Regions from separate parts of the Homo sapiens genome. Here region 2 is linked to region 1. Evidence: fine-mapped expression QTL. Tissue or cell type: whole blood. Region 1 holds a variant in brackets; the other region holds the start of a gene. All regions are shown on one strand. Distances are from middle to middle.

The links. PIP is the estimated chance that this variant, and not a neighbour inherited with it, causes the effect.
Region 2: it holds the start of IKZF1, and the variant in region 1 is fine-mapped to the expression of IKZF1 in whole blood (TOPMed, PIP above 0.99).

The regions. Positions count from the first base shown.
Region 1 is chr7:50,339,219-50,347,218 of GRCh38, reverse strand. All of the region lies in intron 3 of IKZF1 (IKAROS family zinc finger 1), which reads right to left. Among named protein-coding and RNA genes, the nearest start is that of IKZF1, 39 kb to the right of the region's middle. The variant T/C (reference allele first, on the strand shown) is at 4,604.
Region 2 is chr7:50,299,861-50,308,036 of GRCh38, reverse strand. It overlaps IKZF1 (IKAROS family zinc finger 1), which reads right to left and starts at 3,321. Exons shown (of 8, transcript NM_006060.6): 1 at 3,115-3,321. RefSeq lists a silencer at 3,209-4,008 and an enhancer at 4,863-5,364.

The DNA of each region.
Region 1 (8,000 bases):
TCATGGAGCTGTGGAAATAGCATCTCAAGGACAGGAATGCTGTCTTATTTATCACTGTCCCTGTAACTAGCACATACAGTATTTCCAAAAGATCTTAACAGGCTGAAATGAAATACACTGAACCAAATGAGATAACGATAATTGCCAGATCCTACCCTTCCCTCCAAATATCAAAGGCACAAATACAAGATGCAGGAGATAATGTCTTCAGGGCTGTTCCTGAGAAACTGACTCATGAGTTCTCAGTTGACAGTTAACATGGGTCGTGGCTGCAAAGATCGAACACAATTTTATATGTGCACATGTGCCCCATTAGGAGGAGCAAGGAAGGTGTTATTCCTGCTCAGCTCTCTGCCCCTCAGAAATGGAATAGTAAATAAAGTTGGGAAGCATGGAAAATGAGTTTAATATGCCATGCTTTCTCAGACTAACGGCAGTGAGTCATGTGAAATTACACAGTTAGCTTTGGCAAACTGTTTCCCATTATGCCCTGAGGGGGAAGGTACACTTACACACAGAAGAGCTCCTTTCGAGGCAGGGGATGGGATTTCTTTTTCATTCTGCATTCCCTGGAAAGACCAGGAAGGCCCTTTGGGTGCAATGTTCTAGGAAGGACTTGGGCACATTGAAGAATGCCAGGGAAGAGTGAGACCAGCAAGAAAAAGCAAGGCAAAGGCATCATGGTGTTTATTTCATCATATGCTGAGGAAACCAACACACTTTAGCCAGGAGAACGGGCTATTTAGAGGGCTTTGTAGAGCTGTTGTCAATGATTTGAAGGGCTGAACTGCTTGAGAGAAGAGAAAGTAGTTACACTGCAGACATCTGCAGGGCTGGCTTTAGAGACAAGCAGATTTAGTTCAGGGCTTTTGTAACAATCAGTGCTTCCGTAAGTGGGCTGCCTCCTGAGGGTTCTCAATAGGCGAGGTGATCACCTGTTAAGGATGCTTAGGAAGAACTTATGCACTGGGGCCTGATGATCTCTCGACAGCCTTCCATCCAGTATGTTTTATGAGACTGGGGATCTCTGTGCACAGCAGCAACATAACATTGTTCAAACACACCGTGCACATGGCTAGCTCTGTGGGCAGCGGGGGTGGGATGAAGTTGTCTGCACTAGAATCTCTTCTAAATTTCCATCTGTTTCATGCACATGCAGACAGAAGCTATTGCTCCCCTTTCCACTAGGAGAACAGTCAGACTGCAGTCAGTGCATCCCACAAAAGCAGTGATGGATTTCAGTGCATCAAGCTAAATATTTTCATGAAGTATTTTAACTGAACCAGATGTTCAAACCAGGCAGAACTGCCACTGCACCCGGCCCTAAATTTTTTTGCATTTTTAGTAGAGATGAGGTTTCACCTTGTGGTCCAGGCTAGTCTCGAACTCCTGACCTCAAGTGATCCTCCTGCCTCGGCCTCCCAAAGTGCTGGGATTACAGGCGTGAGCCACAAACCAGGCAGAATTGCTTGTGGGATGAGGAGATAGATTATTCTGTATTTCATTTCTATCTTTTACCTTTTTTTTCTTTCTGCCAAGCTGCCTCCATCTTTTCTTACACCAGAAGGCAAATTCTTTGGCCCCATGAATCTCATTCTTCTGGTTCACCCCTCTGCCTAGCAGAGTGCCTGGGCCACAACAGACATTTAACATGCATCTGTCTCATTAGCTGATTCTCCAAAGACGGCTCAATTTCCACCTCCCGGGGATCCCATGTGTTCTGGAGTGCTGACACCACTCAAAACCTGAGCTCCAAACCTAGAGTGTGGTGCAAGGCTTCCCTTTAGGTCTCTGCAGTTTGTTTAGCTCCACAACGGAACTAGGTCTTATGTACCTCTGATTTGCCATGATCTCTAGTCCAATATCTTGTAACTGATTCAGTTTGTGCTTTGGAGACAATATGATTCTGAGTAATATGTTAATAAGCCTGCAGATTTCTTTATAGTTTTTAAGACTAAATAGGATAAAACAAATCCATAGTATATACCCATGAATATTTTAGTAAGGTGGTAATTCACTGTGGGATGTACTAATAATTTCTGAGATCCCTGGATGCCGTCAATTCAGATTATTTATACCCTATGGGCTGGGAGAAGACCAGAGGGTGTGACCTTCACAGACTCCAGACTTCTAAGAATATTTTAATTATATAGCAAAGCTTAAAATATTCATTCCTCTTATTTTTCCCATCTATTAGGTTGGTGCAAAAGTAACCGTGGTTTTTGCTATTACTTTTAATGGCAAAAATCGCAGTTACTTTTGCACCAACCTAATATATTTGATTTAAATTTTTAGATGATACATTTTATTTTTTCCCCTCATCTGTGTAAGCACTGCTCCTTTCCCTTTTAAGTATTTTCATCTCTTACTTAAAATGTTGCTTCTTGACTTTCAATTCCAACTAAGATGATTTTCTATTTCTATAGCCTATCTCTTAAAAAGGTATCATCACAATACACTGAATTTAGTGTTTCTGTTAGTCAAGATGTCAATTACTTTTCTACTTTTAACACTGCATTGTGTTATGTGATCGTGAAGCAATTCAAGTAGATGTAGTACCTGCCTGCAAGGAACTTGCAATCTACCTGCACATGAGGTACAAAATAACGGGAGTATAACAGCTTATACATGATTGTACTTTTAGCACTGATGCAGAGGAGTGGAATAATTCTAGATGTGCTCAGATGAACTTAGGCAAATAGTTTGGAAGTTGTAAAATGTGTTTCCCAAAGCACAAAAAATAGAGAGGCAAAATGTGGATGACTTGCCCTGTGGGTTGGGGATGTGTGAAGAGAAGGAACCTGGCTTAGAAACACTGCTGATTGACTTCATAAAGGAGTCATTGGAAGGGACAAAGAAGTAAAGGAAGACAACATCAGCGGATGTGGCCTGGGTCATCTACATGTGAGGACAGTCACACACTAGACACAAGGCAAAAGGTGTGTCTTTTCTGACCTGGTCATGCAGATTAATGAGTTTTTGAAATACCACTTTACATGTCATATACTTAGGAAAAAATATGATTTCATTCAATGTATTTTGCAGATGAAGAAAGAGGAGGTAGGCCTGCCCCACACATCCCGATTCTGGTAAGGCAGAGAACTGAAGCTTAAACCCAGGACTTCTGCTTCAAAATCTTTTACAACAAGCTGGGCTCACCTTCTGGAGGATTTTTTGGGGGTTTGGGGAAAAAGAGGTGGGTAAATTTATAAGTCAGCTCAGAAAGCAATTCTCACGACTTCACAATTAAGCCTTATTTGTGAACAAAAAAACAGCATTCCTCAGGTTAAGTTAGCACTTTATTCAAAGGTCTAGGCTCTAAAAGGATTTTGGACTATTTCTAAAAGGAAAATAAAACCCAGACTCAAATATACAAAAGCAAGTGCTTGGGTCTCTGAAGGTAATCAAAACAGGGAGATGCAAAATAAATGTGAGTGATGAAAAAAATGCGGATTCTCAACGTTAGGTCTTCCAGGCATGTGTGCTGGTGCATTAGGCCTTCAGCCCATCACTGCTGCACTGTATTACACTCTAGGTACACTCAGTTAAAGACATGAAATGACCATAGCTAGAGACAGTAACATTGTAACCACAGCGTGTCTTCTCCTGGCACAAGCCTCTTGTACAAAGAAGTAGTTCTCCTTGTCCACAAATCTCAAACCAGGAAATCCCTAATTCATTTAATGATCAGGAAAATGCAAGAGATTTGTGTAGTTGTGACTCTTCCAGTTACTCCCCGCTGTACCATTATTTTAGGTTACCTATCACACAGGATGGTGTGCCTGATGGCACTGGCAGTCATTTCTCTATGTCTTGTAGAAAAGTTTACTCCTGGGAAAAACAATTTGGTCACTAGTCCTTGGACCTAAGTAACAGAATCTTGATGAAATGGTACCCATGATCAAATGTTAAAAGGAAGAAAGGGATGGAGAAAAGAAGAGAGGAAGGAAGGAAGGAGGAAAGGGAAAGAAAAAGGAGGAAGGGAGGGAGGGAGGGGAGGGGAAGGGAGACGAGGGGAAGGGAGACGAGGGGAAGGGAGGGAGGGTGGGGAGGGAAGGAGGGAAGAAAGAAAGGAAGGAAGAAAGAAAGGGAGGGAGGGAGGAAAGAAAAAAAGAGGAAAGAAGGAAGGAAAGAAAGGAGAAAGAGAAAGGAGGAAAATTAAAAAGAAAAAGGAAGAAAGGAAGGAAGGAAGAAGAAAGACAGGAAGGAAGGAAAAAGGAGGAAAGAAACAAAAGGGCAAGCAAACAAGAAAGGTCAAAAGACAGTAACGGCCCAATCAAAGCTTCCATGACGAATCTGTGCCTTTTTGGATCATGGTGTACTCAGGAAATGCAGCCGCCACAGGAGCACACGCTGTCTCCTGAACTGCAGGAAGAGCAGCGGTTAGCAGCAGGAGGTGTCCCTTTCACAGGAAGGCTGGGGTCTGGGCTGCACACTGCGGAGCAGATTCACATGCCAGGGTGGCCCCGCTTGGGCTATGAGGACATGGGTGCCAAGGTGGAACTGCTTTCTCAGGCTGCAGGCAGGCAGCTTGCTGCTTCTCTTTCTCTCTTTGAAAAAAAAAAAAAAAAGCCTTTCCTTCACCACCTCTCCTCGGTTGCTT[T/C]ATCAGGTTGCAAAAGCATCTTTTAGGAAGTATCAAGGGGCATCACTCTCCACAATTTTTGCAAAACAATTCCATAGTTGTGATGGTGTCTGTCTTTGCAGCTTAGTTTACTTACAGCCTGTCCTCAAGGGCGCTCTCTGGGAACCTGCCTCATGTCTATAAAGCAGCTACCTCATTTCAAAAATTTAAAGAGGACTTCCCAACTTAAAAAAGTTACCATAGAGTACATGGGAATACAATGAAGGGATGAAGACAAAAATTAAATGTCATGTTTTTCTACATTTAATTCAGCTACTTAGCTTTGAAAAACTGATTTGTTTGACATGTTCACATGTTGTTGTATTCTCGTTACTTTGTACTTAACCAAAATGCCTACAAGTACAAGACCTGTACTTAAAACACAGCTACATAAAATAAACCCAATTGATGTTAAAATTGGACTGGACCTAGATTTTCTTTACATCAAATGTGGGCAAAAAATGAAAGACTTAAAAAGCAGATGTTCACATACATTTGTGACAACACTGAGAAAATGTTTTGAAAAGCAAATTGATTTAAAAACTACTTTTAGAGAGTTGATAAATGACTAGTCTTTGGCTAACATTCAACAAGGGTTAATCTAAAAAGTTTTTTTTTTTTCCACAATATAATGACACACAGTTCTTTGGAGCTCTCAAGATCTGCCTGCCTGTCCAATAGGTAACCCCTAGCTGCATGTGACTCCTGAGCACTTGAAATGTGACCAACCCAAATTGAAATGTGTGGTGAAGATAAAAAAAAAATACATCCGGGGTTTCAAACACATAGTTCAAAAAGAGTAAAATATTTCATTAACAATTGCTTATATTGAGTACATACTTAAATAATATTTAAGCATACTGAATTAAGAAAATATATTCAAATTAATTTCACCTGTGTCATTTTTCTTTTTTAATGTGACTACTAAAAATGGACCAGCAAATATGCAGGTCAAATTATGTTCCCCTTGGACAGTGCTACGCTGGAATTTCTGATTTCTATATTTCACAAATAATGTTCCACAGATGCTAGTTATCATCCATCTGTAAAACCTCTGTCCCTCAAACAATGACTGTTCAACGTTGTTGCGTCTCATAAGGCATAAAGCTGGGCTAGGACTGTCTGCCTATGTCCTGATTAGAAAGACTCCATACAGCCTGGATACGGTGCCTCACATCTGTAATCCCAGCACTTTGGGAGGCTGAGGCAGGTGGATTACCTGAAGTCAGGAGTTCGAGACCAGCCTGGTCAACGTGGTGAAACCCCATCTCTATTAAAAATGCAAAAAATCAGCTGGGCATGGTGGCGGGCGTGTAATCCCAGCTGCTTGGGAGGCTGGGACAGGAGAATCACTTGAACCCAAGAGGTGGAGGCTGCAGTGAGCCAAGATCACACCACTGCACTCCAGCCTGGGCTGCAGAGTGAAACTCTGTCTAAAAAAAAAAAAAAAAAGACTCCATACCCAACATTTAAAATATGTGTGCAGGCACAGGGCAAGCAGATTTTAAGGGTATATTTTTAGGAGACTCCATCAATAATAAAACATGGTTATTGAAATGGGAAAAATTAACTAACACATATAAAACCTTAACAGAAATTTTTACACTTAAAGCTACAAAGTCAAATATAAAAATCAGTGTTGAGACCATATATAAGTAGCAATAATGCTTTAAAACTGCGAGTAAATGCAGCCTTTACAGTGACAAAAACAACTCCATTGTCATCTCAGGATGAAAGTCACTTCACTTAGATCACAGCATTCTCTACAGAACAATAATTTCACTAAGGATTACTTGCACCATAACACTAAGATTAAGTAAGGGTGGCTACACCTGGTAATAGTTAATTGTCACTAAACATTATGGACAGAGTAGAAATGCTTGGGGGGCACTGGCAGATTCTTAATTTTATTGCCACCAAGTTCAACTGGAGAGCACAGAGATATTGCAAAAGCAGTCAAAATTCTGCCAGGTTCCAAGAATCATAATAAAAATGATCATATAGCTGCCTGTAGAAATATAATAACAGCACTTTTCTCATTTCAGCAGGATTTCACTTCTAGGGTAACAGTCCTTCACTCTGAAAAAGAGAACAGCCACATCTGCCACTGGGCTCTGCCATGCAGCAGGGGGCCATGCTGAAGGCCTTCCATCGATCACACCCAGCCTGGTGAGGAGTGACACCGGATGTTCAGGGCTTCACCAGAATCATCTCCTGGTGATTTCAGTGGAAATCGACAGCCTGCAGCCACATCCCCTGTGGGGGAAGTACTCTCCTGGCAGCAGGCCTTGCGGAGACACACCCTAGACCTGTCTCTCTGAGATCCCTGCAGCTGAACTCACTCCTGAAATTAGGGCACCAAACGGCTCTTCAGTTAATGGAGTTACAGCAAGTGTCAGGTGCTTCAAAGCACAAAAATACAATCCCCAGCCCTTCCACAGTGGAGGTAGTTTTCTGATAGACTCCTTAGACATGCGCATATTGCTAAGCCCTTACTGCGAAAGTATCCTCAAGAAGCCACCCCTGCAGGCACAGGGAGAACTGCACAGGCCACTTCCTGGACCTGCACACCTATCTCAGGGCTGCATTTAATCTAAGGAAGTCAACAGAAATTTCTTTGCAGAAGACCAACTTAATCACAGGAATTAAAGAATATTGCATGGGCTAATATTTTTCTGGAAAAATCATAGTAATTTAGTAACATATTAATGTAATTTAGACATCTTGCTTTACATTTAAAAATAATTCAGCCCCAAATAAAAATCATTCAGCCCCAAATAACAGCAATAGCATAATAGCTCATAAATAAGACACAGAATCCTTTTCTTTCTTTCTTTCTTTTTTTTTTTTTGAGAAGGAGTTATCACCCAGGCTGGAGTACAGTGCCACAATCTTGGCTCACTGCAACCCCCGCCTCCCGAATTCAAGCGATTCTTCTGCCTCAGCCTTCCCAGTAGCTGGGACTACAGGCACACGCCACCACACCCAGCTAATTTTTTTTTTCATATTTTAGTAGAGATGGGGTTTCACCATATTGGCCAGGCTGGTCTCAAACTCCTGACCTCATGATCTGCCTGCCTCGGCCTCCCAAAGTGCTGGGATTACGGCGTAAGCCACCATGCCTGGCCAAATCCTTTTCTAATCATACTCCCCCAGCAACCAAACTAAATGCTAAAGATGTGTTTTGTTTAGAATATGGAGAGTCTAGTTGCTCCAACATTTCCAGTTTGTGACTTCAACAGCAAAGAGTCATTTGGAACCAACTCTTCTGTTGGACAAATTATATGTACCCCACAGTCCTCCCCAATAGATTCACCCTTTCCCAGCTCCTCCTCCACAACACACACACACACACACACACACACACACACACACACAC
Region 2 (8,176 bases), 39 kb after region 1:
TATATTCCAGGAGATGTGGAAAGGTAACCTGAGATATGAAGTCATTTATTAAACTGCAAAGAAATACAAGAAAGCCATGGTCCACATGAAGACACCAGCATGAGTGTTCAGTCAGCACTACAGTAAAAACAGCTTTGTTACTGTCGATATCCTTTGGTTTTAGGTGCTCTGCGTCCCTAACAAAACCTCATTCCTATCTTGTTCCTCATCTGAATTTTAAGTGTGTGTGTGTGTGACAGTGTGTATAATGCTGATCCTCTGAAACTCTACGTTTCTAAGACCTAGATCAAAAATGTACATGTGCCCTTTTTGAGCAAAATAAAACTGATCTGTTTTCAAGACGTGAAATAGATTAATGTTTCTCTTCTTGTAAGCTTCAAAGGATGGGTCACTTGTTGCTTTTACATCTTGTGTTTTCTCCCATAAAATGGAATGATTATTCAGCACAAATATGAAATGGAATAGAGCTGAAGTCTCTGTAGTTATGAACATAGAGACACCAGAGAGAGAACAATGTTCACAGCCAGGACAGGAGCTGCAGCAACTCTGCCGCTAGAAGCAGGCGTCACAGTGCCCCCAGAGTGCTTGTCAGTCTTAGAAACAGAGGCATCGGAAGACAAGCGTTTTCAGAGAACGCAAAAAGGTCGTGGTTTACCTTCTGTAAGCTGGAGTGGAGCCACTTACATCAATCTCCCTTAGAATATGACAAGAACCAACATTTATTTCATAGTGAAATTATTTCACAAGTCCAAAGATTAGAGGAGGAAAAAAAAAATGCCACAAAACAGTGATATCCTTGATGAATTCTTCGTTAACCACAGTTACATTACATTAATACGTACAATTATGCAACACTCAAAAAACGTTATTTATGCCTAAAATTCACCATTATATAACATAGGGAAATCCATCTTGTTTTAGTAAAAGTTTAAAAATAAAGGGGGCCTTTAATACTCATTTCAGGTCTGTTTGATGTTAAAACTCTTCCACACTGCCCCATGCCTCTCACTCCACGCTGTGTGCATGCTGTGTGTGTGCACGCTCTGTGTGCATATGTGCATATGCACATGGAATTTATTTCATGTATCTGTTAATAAATGCATAATCTTGAAGTGTGTGTATAAGTACATTAATATATAGAGAGTTCTTTCCTATTTCAAAATTTTTGACATTTATATTGAAAATATGCTATATTAACCACGCATGAAACACACACATCCAAATCAAGAACAAAAAATGTATCCAAACCAAAGAACCACTGTTCTCAAACTCCAAGTCTCTAGTCAAACAAGGAAGACAGTGGCCTGCAGTACAACAGGGCTTTAGACCTCTTGGCTAATACATTCACTGCGATCTTAGTTTTTCGACAAAGGAAATGGCTACAAACGGCCACAGCTGATCTTCTCTTTAGGAGCCTGTGTAAAACTCTTCGAAAGGGTCAAACCTAACACATCCAGACTTTTATCTGCAGCCCTTGTGGTCTCCTGGAGACCCTGAGGGTGGGTGATTATTGCTATGATGTTTCTGCATTAGGGGGGTGTGTAGTTTTCCAAGAGGTACCACTCTAATTAGAACACTGATGAATTAAACAAGTACTGGAGAGTTTCTAAACTCCTTCCTTCAACTCTCACCGTGAAACAAAAGGGGAAGAAAACATGACCATTTAGTTCAATAAAATGTTCTGGTCACCAGCTCTGATTGACTGTGAGACTTAAGAGTCACGTTTTTTTTCATGTAAAAAATGTATGAAATATGTTCATGGTGAAATTGGAAATCAGATACATTCCATCAAGCAAGAATAGTGTAGTATTTTTAATGTGACATCATTATTTGTATGTGTACACATTATTTCTTTAACTTGTTCTGCATTTTACAAGATGCCAGCGTAAGAAGGTGAATCTTCTTGTCATGAATATTTGCCTCGTGTACATTTTAAGCCATAGCCCAAATGATCTGATTTGTCACGGAAATAATTCTGACACATTCTAATATAAATAATACTGAAATTGTTACTTTTTAAAATTCCATATAAAAGATGAGTACAATAAAACTCATTGAACAAACATCTTCAAACAAAGAAATAAACTCAAGAGGACCCAGGACATTTCTATGTGGGTCCCCCCCACCCCTCGACTCATAACCAAATTGAACCTGGCCTTAAAAGCATTTGAATGTCTATGAAAGTTTAAATATCATACGCAGTATTTTCAAATTCCATAAATTTTCCTCTTTTAACAGAAGTTGATGGGACTAGTAAGGAGACATTTCCTCAACACCATTTTGTCTGGAATTTTAAAACAAGGTATCTCAAAGCTGAAATATACTGCCTGCGGCGCAGTGGGAAATTGTGAGTGGGTAACCTAAGCAAAGCGCACCGCATTGAAATTCAGTCTGGGTGGGCTGCAGTCCCTAGAGAGAGGGAAGCTGCATTTGAAAGCTGTGCCTGGTCAGACCCTATGGAATCGCTACGGTTTTCGGTCATTAGATGCCTCCAAATTAGAAGGAAAAACAAGCCCTCACGAGGTTCCTTAGGCATCAGCAGCGATGCTTGACAAATATTTAAAATACATTTCAAATATAACCGCAAGTAACCTGATGCCTTAATATTACTAAGGGTTTTCCTGAGAAGGTTTGGTGACTTGAGCGTCAAACCTGCGGTCAGCAAAAGGACTAACTTTTCAAAGCCGGGATAATTCCTCTCTTGCAGAAATTAAGTTCAGACTCGATCTCATCATATTTATAGTATAAAAAGAAAGCTCCCGGCTCAAATATAAGGAAAACTCTTTACACACGACTTTATAAAGGCTGACTTCCGTGGGTATATGTAGGTCTACATAAATTTAAATATGGTTGGGAGCTAGAACTCCTCTCCTGGTGACAGCGGGGCTGCTCAGAAGTGTCCCATGTCGGCCTGGTCCTGCACCTGCTGGCACAGTGCAGAGCAACAGACGCTTGACAGAAGTGAACTCTCTCACTGTCCTCAGAAAAGAGAGGCGGACCTGAGCGACACCAGGGTCTACCAACCTTACCGCTTTTCTTTACTGTGTTTTTTTTTTTTTAAATTCACCAGTTACCCCAAGTTTTCCTATTGAAATTCAATTTGAAAACACTCACGTGGATTTGTGCGTCGCGCTTTGGGGCCAAGACTGATCCTCGGGTGCGAAGAGCAACCTCGGAGCCGGGGCTCCCTCTGCCCTGCCAGGCTTGCCCGCCTCGCCGCGGCCGAGCGTCCCGCCCAGGCTGGGATGCGCCGCGCGGGGACCCAGGGGGCTTGCCGCAGTCACCGCCCCGGGCGCGGGCCGCGCAGTCACTTGTTAGAGTGTCCTGCTAACTTGGCCGCGGAGCTCTTCCCAGCTTTCTTTCACAATGACTTCCTGAAGTTGCTCACTCGCATTGTTCCCCATTTCTCCGCCACACTCCCCGCCCCCAGCCGGCTCAGACCAGGCTTTCGCGCTCCCGGCCGACCGGCTGCCCCGCGCGCACAGCGCCGCCCGCGGGCCCCGTACCTGGCCCCCTCCGCGCCGGCCGCCCCCGCCGCGCCCTTGCGTTGCCACCAGCTGCCGCCCAGAGCGGCGGGTGGCCAGAGCGCGCGCCCTGCCACCCCGCAAACTTTGGGGTGACGCACGCTGGCGGTCCCTGCTCGACCTGCCCCGCAGCCGGCTCGGCCCCGCGCGCACCTCTCGGCCGCCTCCCGGATCGCTGCTCCGGTACAGGGAGCGGGGCGCGCAGAAGGGCGCAGAGCGGGACACGGAGAGGGTGCGTCGTCCCGTCCCCGCCCCGTCGCCGAGTCCCCCGGCTCGCGCGGCGCGCGTCTCAGCCGCAACTCCGGGCCAGAGGGGCCGCGCACGAAAACTTTGCAATCGCGCCGGGCTCCGGCTCAGCCCCCAAAGGCCGCCGGGGCGGCGGCGGGTGCGGGCCGTACCTGCTGGCGCCGCCGCCGGCTGCAGCCCGCTCGCCCGCGCCGGGCCCGCTCGGCGCGCCGCCGCCACCCCCGCGCGCACCGCGCCCGGGCCCTCCCCTCGCCGCCGCGCTTCCTCATTCCAGCGCAGCATCGCGCCGCGGCCCCGCACGGGATGCGGCGGCCGGCGCTGTGTCCGCGGGCCGGGCAGCCCGGCTCGGCCGCGGCGCTGCGGGACCCGCGCGTAACCCGTGGGGGCGCGGCGCGGGCGACACGTGCGGGCCGCCAGGAGGGGGAGGGGGACGCGCGCCGCCGGGCCCGCCACCCTGCACCCGGGGCCGCTGGTCGGTCGGGGCACCCTCACGCTCGCCCCGCTGGCGAGACTGGAGGGACTCGGGACATCGTAAAGCACTTTCCCCAGTGTCTGGGAGCGCCCGCTGTACGCTCAGCTTCACGTCCCTGGAACTGGGGCCCCTTGGCTCCCGGGTTCAGGCTCCGGCCCCAGGATGCGAGTGCCCACCCGAGGGGGTGGGAAAAGTTGATCCTCCGCAAGGGAGGGGAAGGTGCAATTCATTTTCCCAGACAACCAATGGAATACCTCTCGTCTCTCTTCCCTCCCACCTGCTCACGGCAGAAGTTAGGATGGCGCCTTCCATGTTGGCCTGGGTGCACACACAAGTGCGTGCGGAAGGGTGGCTGCAGGCGGAGGTGACAGCGAAGCAATCCCGCAGCCCGCTCGACGGCTCTTTGCGTCTCAGACCTCTCCCTGGCGTGTAAGACACCGTGTGTCTCCGTAAAACGGGAATGCCACATCTGACAGCGCACCCCTTCGCCCTACGGGGAGCCCCTCACTCTAATTAGCCGGGCTCCACCCGAGCAGGAGCCAGCAATGTGTTCAGCTTGAGCAGGAGAGAAAAAGTCATGAATTCCACAAATGCAGCCTGGGCTCCCGCCAGGCGCTAGGGGAGGGGACCCAGAGGAGTGAGATGCGCCTCCTGCCCTTCCAGACTTGTAGGAGCCACCAGGAAGGCACAGAATAAAAATCCCGGGCACCCCTGTGAGGAGGAGCGCCCTGTGAAGAGGGCCGAGAACGTGCTCCTGCTTGGGCGCGGTGGTTCGGGAAGGCGTGAAGACCCATAGGGAGAGCGATGAAAGACCAAGGGAGCCTCCTCAGGGTAGGACATGCAGGCGAAGAAGGCACAGGCCTTCCGGGTGGAGGACACAGCCGGGCAAGGGAATAAGCAGGAAATGTCCCTTCAGGGCAGTTGAGTGTGGCTGGAGACCATCGCTGCCGGGGAAGGTCTTGGCCTGGCCCAGGAGGCCTCCAAGTCGGGGGCCAGGGCACACCAGAGACAGGATCTGCCTCTGCTGCCTCTGGGAGAAGGCCCTTTACCCGTGAATCACAAACAGCGTCTATCCACATTCTCCCTGAGCGCATATGCAGCTCTTACTACAGTACTCAGTGTGTCCTGAAGGGCATTCCGCTGGGCAAGTCTGAGCCAGTTAACTCACTGCTACAGCCCAGAGAAGGGGAAGGTAGTGAAAGGTCCATTGATTTACCTTCTAGTCCTCTCCTCCACTGCGTGACCTTGGGCAGGTTATCCAAACTCCTGAGCATCATCTTCCTTGTCTATAAAAAGAATACATGCCACCAATCCTAAAGACTCCTTACCTGGATTAAATGAGGCAATAAACATAAGGTACAAGGCCCAGAGGGAGGCCAACAATGTTGTAAAGGGGACACGGGACACCTCTAGTTCTTGGATGCAGAAGTACCTTTAGCCGCTGGTACGTCTCTCTAAACCTGTGCCTTGGTCTTCAGGAGTGGACCAGTGGACCGAAACATAGGCATCTCACCAAGGTGTAGCCCACTGAGGCAGGAGCATGTGGGGCTAAGAGCCCAGATAGTTTGGGCTTATGAATCTGACTGAGGTCCTTAATCTCTCAAAGCCTGAATTTCCCCATCTGTAAATTGGTGGTGATAATATAACCCTCCTGGTGGGGTTGTTTGTGGGTTAAGGAGATCACATATGGAAGACCTTGCCACATGCCTGACAGAGAGGAGTACTTTCCAAGTAAGAACAGTTATTCCCTGCTAGCCCAACCAATGTCCCAATGAGATGAGGAGTGCACTGTGAAGAGTCAGGCTCCTTGGCTGGGTGCAGTGACTCACACCTGAGTTTGGAGCCCAAGGTGGGAAGATCACTTCAAGCCAAGAGTTCCAGACCAGCCTGGGCAACAAAGCAAGACCCTGTTTGTACAAAAAAATTTTAAACTTTAAAAATCAAACCCCATTTGTATTAAAAATTTAAAAATTAGGTGTTATGGTATGCACCTGCAGTCCCAACAACCTACTTAGGAGGCTGAGGCAGGAGGATCCCTTGAGCCCAGAAGTTTGAGGCTGCAGTGAGCCATGATTGACACCACTGCACTCCAGCTTGGGCGACACAGCAAGACCCTGTCACAAAACAAAACAAAACAGCAGTCAGGCTGCAGGTACCATGCCTTACCCTTGCCCCCAACCGGGTGGAGTTGAAGGAAGTCAAGCTTATATTATTATAACCTGGGGTCTGTGGATAGACTCAGAGGGACCAGAGAGGTGATATAAATCAAATGTTCAAACCCTTAGGGACAACAGTAAAATGCACAATGGATGGGAAAACATATAGGGAGAAATTGGAACATGTAAAACTGTTTTTTTTCATATTATGTCTAAAGTCATTTTATTTTATTTACATATTAATTCATATATTGCCCTCTTCATAATGTTAAAGTATTAAATAAAACACTTTAATTTATTCAGGCAATAATTGCTAAATCACCAATTTTTCTTCTTATGAGGCTGTATTATCGAAAGAATAGAGACCACCTATAGGATTAATCAAAGGCTACTTATTCAGAGCTCACTATGGAAAGAGAGGCAGCTAGGCACTTTTGTCCAGGTAGAGCCTGGATGGGATTTTCAAAAGAGAGTGAGTTTTTTACTTTCAAAGGAAAGTAAAAGGATGATTGAGGTGATACGATATGGTTAATAGTTTTGTTTCTTAGTAACTGTGTTTGGCAAGTTGTTTAAAGCCTGAGCTTCAGTTTCTCATCCGCAGAGCACATCTACTTCACAATGGTCTTGATAGAATTACGTGAAATTCAATGAAATAATCTATGGAAGTTATCATAATTGTATTTTTCTTCAATAAAAAAAGATCTGTTAACAGCAATGAAAAGTGCATGTCTCCTCTGATGGTTGGAAAACAGCAAGAATATTTTTAAATAACAGCAAAAGGTTTTTTTTGCTAAAAAATAAAATTTTATTTTATTTATATACCCAGGACTTGGATGAAACTGTTGCAACAAAGACACTGTTTCTTTGGTTTCTTTTTCCCAGTTTTCATGACTTCCAGCTTCTGCCTCTGCTGTTTTTGAAAAGTAATGATCACTGGCCTGGTGAGAGGTCCTCGATCCTTTTTCTTGGGCTCCCTCGTTGGTTTGGCTATTTCTAAGCATAGTCCACTAGCTCCCGCCTGCTGCTGGGGGTGAAGGAGCAGGATGCAGAGGAGAGGCAGGGGGCTGGTGCAGAGCTAGGACTGTCCTGCTGGCAGTGCCTGGGTAGGAAGCACCTGGTGAACCTGGCAAGATACTCCTCTGGGTGCTTGGTTTCCTGAAACATCTGTAAGGCCCTGTCTTGGCACCTCAGTGTCTCCTGGTTCTGCAGGAACCACAGAAATCCTTTAGCACTACTGACCATTCACATCTCTGCCTGTAGGTTTCGAATCAGGGATGGGCTGCAGCTGACATATGAATTCTTCCCACTTCCTGATAATACTTTCACTTTATTCCCTTTGAAATTTGTAAGAGAAATACACTTAGGTTCTCAAAAGCAACAAATTTCTATCAATATCATTTGGTTATAAGAGACTAAAAATCACACTGAGTCAGATATAGTGATTTGGAGGAGATAGATAGGTTTACACAAAAAATCTTTCTGATGAAAAGTTTCTGAAGATGTTTTTGATGAGTAATAAAAAATAATATATTAATCTGACCTGAACAGATCAGAACAAAGAAGAACAGAGCTGTGTGTCACTCCAGTTGATTCTTTGAATAGGAACAGGATTGGAGCAGGATTTCCGGAAGCATAAACACTCTGGTGGCATGTATTCATTTATTTATTCAGAAAGCCTGTATTTATTGAGAGTGTACCATTGCAGGTGGCTCTTGAGATGCAGGTAGTCACAAGAAAGCAGAAAGGAAGATCTGTCCCTTAAGGAGCTCACAATCTAG